Linked DNA regions of Homo sapiens. The protein of the gene in region 1 purifies or fractionates together with the protein of each later gene. This does not show direct contact. Each region holds a gene or a part of one and is shown on either strand. Other genes may lie near its edges.

Region 1 (3,500 bases):
CCAAGGTCACACAGCTCATAAGCGGCAGAGCTGAGATTTGAACTCAGGGAGCTGGCTCCACAAGCTCCATTGCTCAACTGCCTGACATGCAGCAGTTGATTAGTACATAGGCTGTGATTGTTAATAACTGTATTAAGGGATTTTTCTTATTCCATCTTAATTCAGACTTCAAACACCTGCAGGCCAAAGGCGTACTTGGGTCCCTGGTCCTTCCTGCAACTTCCCACCTTGGTCTGTCAACATGATGGGTGCTCAACAGTGTTTAATGATTTAAACTGAATTTAGAGGCCGGGAACTGGTGAACCCCAAAGAGTCCAGCTAAGACATCACAAAGGCTCAGTCTAGGGCTTTGCAGGGAACATACTGCCAAAAACCTCTCCCATCACTTACTCGTTGAACGCTCTTCTCTAAGGGCCAACTCTGAGCTGTGAGATGTGCTGCAGATTCACCATCGTGATAACAGCGCATCCAATGCCGGGATCCTGATCTTCCGCCCCCCAGAACGGCCTCCCCAGTCTGTTGAGAGCACCTCCATCCTTCTCATGGCTCAGACTCAAGACCTGGGAGTCGTTCTAGAGGTCTCTCTATCTCTCTCTCTTTTTTTTTTTTTTTTTTTTGAGATGGAGTCTCACTCTTTCACCCAGGCTGGTGTGCAGTGGCAGGATCTCAGCTCACTGTAACCCCATCTCTTGCGTTCAAGCGATTCTCACGCCTCAGCCTCCCAAGTAGCTGGGATTACAGACACATACCACCATGCCTCGCTAATTTTTGTATTTTAGTATTTCAGTAGAGACGGGGTTTCACCATGTTGGCCAGGCTGGTCTGGAACTCCTGACCTCAAGTGATCCACCCGCCTCGGCCTCCCTAAGTGCTGGGATTATAGGTATGAGCCACCACAGCCGGTCTAGACATCTCTCTTTTCTCACCTCCCACATACCACCCACCAGCAAATTCATCGTGTATTTCCAGCATCCGACACTCCCATCCCTTCTGGTCTGAGCCCCGTCATCATTGGCCTGGATTTTGCAGTAGCCCCATAATCATCTCCCTCCTTCTGTCGTTGCCCCTGGTCTATTCACAACACAGCAGTCAGAGAGCTCCTGGGAAGTCATAAGCCAGATCACCTCCCTCCTCTGCCCCAAGCCTTCTGGTGGCTTCCCATCTCAGAGGAAAAGCCAAAGTCCCCACAGTGGCCTACAAGGCCCCAACAGGATCCTGTTCATGCTTCCTCTCTGACCTCCTCTCCTCCTGCTCTCTGCTCCAGCCACATTGGCCCCTTGCTGTTCCTTAAATACCCCAGGCACACTCGTGCCTCAGGGCCTTTGCACTGGCTGTTCCCTCTACCAGCATTATTTCTCAGCAAGGCCTTCCCTGCTGGAGGATTAGATGAGCTAGGGGACTTACAGCATTTTGCCCCAAGCCTGGCACATAGCAGATGCTACGTGGAAGCATAACCCTCTCCTGTTTATTGAGCATCTGCTATGTGCCAGGCTTGGGGCAAAATGCTGTAAGTCCCCTAGCTCATCTAATCCCCCAGCAGCCCTGTGAGCCGGGTACCAAGGCTCAGAGAGGCAAAATAACTTGCCCCAGGCCCCACAAGTGGGAGCCAGAGTTGGAACCTAAGTATGTGTGGTTTTGGTTCTGAAACCCCTGTGTGTGTACAGACCTACTGGAAGGTTTTCTCAGAAGATCTGGGAGAACTTGTTTGCTAATGAGTCCTTTCCCCAGACGTAGCTCAGTGGCCACCCAGGTCTCACACACACGCTGTTTCCCGTCTGCACTTCCTGAGCAGCTCACACGCTTCACCAGCGCTCTTACTTCATTCTGTCTTGGAGATGATGCCCTCACACCCGTCCCCCTTTCCCAAGCCCATGAGTCCCTCAAGGCAGGAACTGTCCTCTTTCTGTCTGGGAGCACAGTGGTTGGCACACAGGCGGGAAACAGTAAATATCTCTGGAATGATAAGGAGTAGGGCTATTTTATCAGGGTCTCTCATGTGCCAAGGCTTATGCCAGCTATTCACTGAAGGGGCATTCCTACAGTACTGTGTGTCGCACCTAGGCTCTGAGCCCACCGGAGGGTGCAGAGACGCACACTGGCCGCCCCAGCCCTCAAGGAGTTCATGTCCAGTGGAGGAAGTGGCAATAACACCCATATCTTGAGGGCTTCATTGAAAGAGTGTTCCCTGAGCACCTAGGCCATGCCTAGCACTGTGTGCTAGAGGGTACGGACATGTCATCCCATGGAACCTGAAGTTACGATTACTGAGCTCATCATTGCTGTAGTTCAGGCCACTCAGAGAAGTTAAGTAACTTACTCAAAGACACACAGCCAGCAAGTTAAGCCCTGACCTGACAGTGATGACAGCACAAGTGGACAACGACTTTGTTGCATGAAATCTCAGCGTGTATAGAATACTTAAACTTTATTAATATATAGTAACTATACTAATGATAATAACAGAGTAGCTAGGACCTATGGAAGGTCTCTTTTATGTTGTGATCATTACGCCTATCATTCCGAGTAGTCTCTACCACCCTGGAAAATAAGTACCATTATATCCCAGCTTGCAAATGTGGAAACTGAGGCAAGAAGAAGTGAAATCACTTGGCCCAGGTTCACAGCTAAGAAAGGGCAGAGTTTGGGGGGTCAATCCAGGCCTGTCTTCTTGCAATCCCTGTGCCGGGATCCAGGGTGCCCCAGCAGGCTGGTGGAGGGCTGGGGAGAGGTGCATATCCTGGGCTGGAGCCCTGGGCAGGGCCCAGCTACTGTGAGGCAGCTGCCTCAGGCAGCGGGATCTGGGCAGCTCTGCAGAGAAGGCTGTGCCGCTTTGCGGGTCACCGATGGGGGTGCGGTTTTTCCTCCGCAGTGGCAGAGGACGACAGCAGCTGTGAGGTGAACGGCCGCCTGTATCGGGAAGGGGAGACCTTCCAGCCCCACTGCAGCATCCGCTGCCGCTGCGAGGACGGCGGCTTCACCTGCGTGCCGCTGTGCAGCGAGGATGTGCGGCTGCCCAGCTGGGACTGCCCCCACCCCAGGAGGGTCGAGGTCCTGGGCAAGTGCTGCCCTGAGTGGGTGTGCGGCCAAGGAGGGGGACTGGGGACCCAGCCCCTTCCAGCCCAAGGTGAGCGCAGCGGTGGTCCAGGTCAGGGCAGGACTGCCTGGGGGCGCCAAGGGCCACCTAGGGGGTGGGGTGGGGGGCGGCTTCCTGGGTACCAGGACCCAGGGACACATCAGAAGCTGGGAGGGGCGGAGGCTGAGGAGGGAGATAAGAAAGAGGAGTGGAGGGCCGGGCGCTGTGGTTCACCCTTGTAATCCCAGTACGTTGGGAGGCCAAGACGGGCGGATCACCTGAGGTTAGGAATTCGAAACCAGCCTGGCTGACATAGGAAAACCCCGTCTCTACTAAAAATTCAAAAATTAGCCTAGCATGGTGGCGGGCATCTGTAGTCCCAGCTACTTGGGAGGCTGAGGCAGGAGAATCGCTTGAACCCGGGAGG
Region 2 (3,500 bases), on another chromosome or scaffold:
ACAAAAAAATGCTTGAGCATTGGGTTACCTGATCTTTTATCTCTTAACTGTGTGTAATATGTTTCTGCCAAAGTATGTATTTTTCCCATGAGTAAGCTGTTTTATTTAATAACATCCTCAGTTTGGTCTGAATGTGCTGAGTTGTTTATTTTCTCCATGCATTTGCTGCATGTGACCTAGTTTGAGCCGTCTCTTTGTGTATTGCTTCTCATGTGATATTAACCCACTCAAAGATGCCATGGGGTTATGTTGCAGATCTCAGCTCTTTTTTTGTTGGATTAAAGATATTTGTAGGCTAGACGCGGTGGCTCATGCCTGTAATTCCAGCACTTTCGGAGACCGACGTAGGCGGATCACCTGAGGTTGGGAGTTAGAGACCAGCATTGCCAACATGGTGAAACCCTGTCTTTACTAAAAGTACCAAAATTTGCCGGGCATGGTGGCGTACGCCTGTAGTCCCAGCTACTCAGGAGGCTGAGGCATGAGAGTCACTTGAACCTGGGAGGTGGAGGTTGCAGTGAGCTGAGATTGTACCATTGCACTCCAGCCTGGGTGACACAGTGAGACTCTGTCTCAAAAAAAAAAAAAAAAAAGATATTTGGAGATACTTGTATAAAATGTCATTTCTAAAATATGACCCCCAAATTCAGTCTCCTATTGATAGAACCAAAGCCATTTAAGCAGTCAGTAGAAAATTTTGAAAACCTGAAACGTGATAATGCACATTTCTTGACTTTTCTTTCCTTTCCTTTCTCAGGTACAAGAATATTCCACAGATGTCCTTTGATGATACAGAAAGGGAGCCAGATCAGACCTTTAGTCTGAACCGGGATCTTACAGGAGAATTAGAGTATGCTACAAAGTAAGCACTGGGCCTGTCTTCCATTCTCTATGGCTTCTTATAGGGCTTGCCATTTATTTTTGGCCAGTCTCCTGCTCTCTTAGCATTGGAAATGAGTTAAAACAGTGGAGGAGACTTGATCTTTGGCTTGGTCAGTTTTTGGCAGAGATTCAGTGCAAGCCACAGACTTGTTAACTTGCAAGCAATTGGCAGATCTGAATGAACTCCTAGGGTGGTTTTAGGAAAGATGTGTCTCCCATTAGTTTAGGTTAACACTAAATGTGCTTTAGAATCCCTGCTGGGTTATGCAGCATTTCTCATTCCTGTTCCTTGAGGGCAGGAGCAGTGTTTATCCCTACTGCCTTGGACAGGATCTGGCAGGTGCTCAGTAAATGGTCATTGAATTAATTGCCTGTCCAAAGGAGAAGGAAGAACTCAGGAGCTCTGACTTTGCCTGGCTTTTACAAGCTGGAGCTGAATTGTTGTTTCACATGGTGGTGAGATACTCATTGAACTATAATTCATACCTTCTTTCCCTATTCCTGTCATCCTCTAGAATTTCTCGTTTTTCAAATGTCTATCATCTCTCAATTCATATTTCAAAAAACTTCGGAGCAGATACGACAAAGGTCTTTTATATTGGCCTGAGAGGAGAGTGGACTGAGGTAAGATGGGGTTGGAAAGGTTTTCCCCTCATGTCTACATATCTGCACACTGTGGTGATGGGAGCTTCCAGGGAAGGGAAAAGAGCAAGTGTCATAATTACTCCCAGTTTATTATTTTTCTTGGTTTTATCAGTATAAACTTTTCGTCTCATTTGAGAAACTACAGGTATTTTTAAGGGGGTTGAAACTGTTATTTTTATATAAATAATATATATAATATATATATATATATCTCAGCTCACTGCGACCTCCGCCTCCCAGGTTCAAGTGATTCTCCTGCCTCAGCCCCCCAAGTAGCTGGGATTACAGGTGCCCACTCCCACGCCTGGCTAATTTTTTTGTATTTTTAGTAGAGACAGGGTTTCACCATGTTGGCCAGGCTGGTCTCGAACTCCTGACCTCAGGTGATCTGCCCATCTCAGCCTCCCAAAATGTTGGGATTACAGGTGTGAGCCACCTTGCCCAGCCTGAAATTGTCATTTATATTAATTCACAGTTTTCTACTTTCAAATGCTTTCATTGAGTATTTTTGATAATCTTTTCTATTCATGAACCAGGGATAAGATAATACCATAGACAAGTTCCTATTCTCATGGTACCCCCATTATAGTAGGGAGACTGAATCTTCAAAGTTACAGGGTGAATCAATGATAATGATCTTTGCAGCTTTCTGGAGTTAAAAAGTATCAAAATTGGGAGATATTAGATGATGACATCTAAGTATTAAAATAAGGAGATATTAAATGATGACTCCTAGAAATGAACCTGAATAAGGACTACCGCAATGTGTGTGGTGTGGGAAAGGACAGTTCTTTTAATGGCTGGCTGACCCAGCCTCAATTTTCTTGCAGCTTCGCCGACACGAGGTGACCATCTGCAATTACGAAGCATCTGCCAACCCAGCAGACCATAGGGTCCATCAGGTTACCCCACAGACACACTTTATTTCCTAAGGGCTGGCCAAGGCTCCCATAGAGGCGCTGTGTCAGTGAAGATGTACGACTACCTGTTGGGAAGGACAAAGGGATGAGGCTCCAGAGAGAGTTGGCTGCCACAGCCTCTGCCAAGCTTTGTCTTTGGGGCTTGCTGCAGAAACCTGGCCTACGGAAGATACGACACCACTGGGAGGGTTGTGTAGGTGCCAGGGGACCATCGTGGTTCTCTAGGGCGCTGTGGAAATTGGGTCTTGGGCTGGGTGGCATCTGGCAGTCATGGGTAACACTTGCTTTTCCAGTTAATGTGGCCATGTGATTCCAAGTGTCATGTTGCTTTGTGGCAAGATTGTTGTGTGACTTGTTTTTTTGTTTTTGTTTTTGTTTTTTTAAAGGAAACTATTTGTGGGCTATAGGAAACTTTCTGATGCCTCCGGATTGTGTTAGTAGTAGCCATCAGGAGGGTCTCCAACTAAAACACTTGTTCCTGCTTGCTCCTTTCCCCTCTCATTGTTCAGCATTCTTGTCAAGTTGCCCAGCTTGGAGTTGTCTGTCACGCACATGTGTCCTGTGGTTATAGCTAGAAGGACAGGAGTCTCCTGCTGATGCGTGATAGCTTAAGCTTGGGGAGAAGGTCTTTTCCACTGCCTAGCTAAGCAGTCTGGGGAGAGCATGGGGATCATTTCTATGTGTGTGGGTAATCTGGTCAGTAAGATTGAGACTTAGTTAAGATTCCCCTTGGAAATTCCTTAATGTTTATTAGCTTCTAACTAGTGTTGTAAGTCCGATGCCAGAATTTGGAGATTTGAGTTCTTCTTTTCATGGCTTTTATTCACTGTGACTAATAAGCTTCCTAATAAATCCTTGCCAGACTTAATGTTTGTATTTTCTTTTGAGTTCTTGATAGCCACTGATGCAACTTTCATTTCATGGGGAACTGTACTGAACTTTGAAATTTTTTGTTGTTGTTTTGGACTAGGTAGATTATAGGAAGTGCCACAATTAAATCAAGACTGGAGCCGGGCGCGGTGGCTCACGCCTGTAATCCCAGCACTTTGGGAG

Evidence for each region. The genes of interacting proteins can lie anywhere in the genome.
Region 2: the proteins of CCN5 (region 1) and PITHD1 purify together in Homo sapiens (affinity purification with mass spectrometry, with the first as the bait; one large-scale study listed by BioGRID). This does not show direct contact.

Annotation. Positions count from the first base shown.
Region 1 is NC_000020.11:44,721,869-44,725,368, forward strand, and holds part of CCN5 (CCN family member 5 isoform 1 precursor), read left to right. Parts: intron 1-2,869; coding exon 2,870-3,124; intron 3,125-3,500.
Region 2 is NC_000001.11:23,784,918-23,788,417, forward strand, and holds the end of PITHD1 (PITH domain-containing protein 1), read left to right. Parts: intron 1-757; coding exon 758-862; intron 863-1,397; coding exon 1,398-1,506; intron 1,507-2,357; coding exon 2,358-2,459; 3' UTR 2,460-3,315; downstream 3,316-3,500. UniProt on the Homo sapiens protein: Promotes megakaryocyte differentiation by up-regulating RUNX1 expression.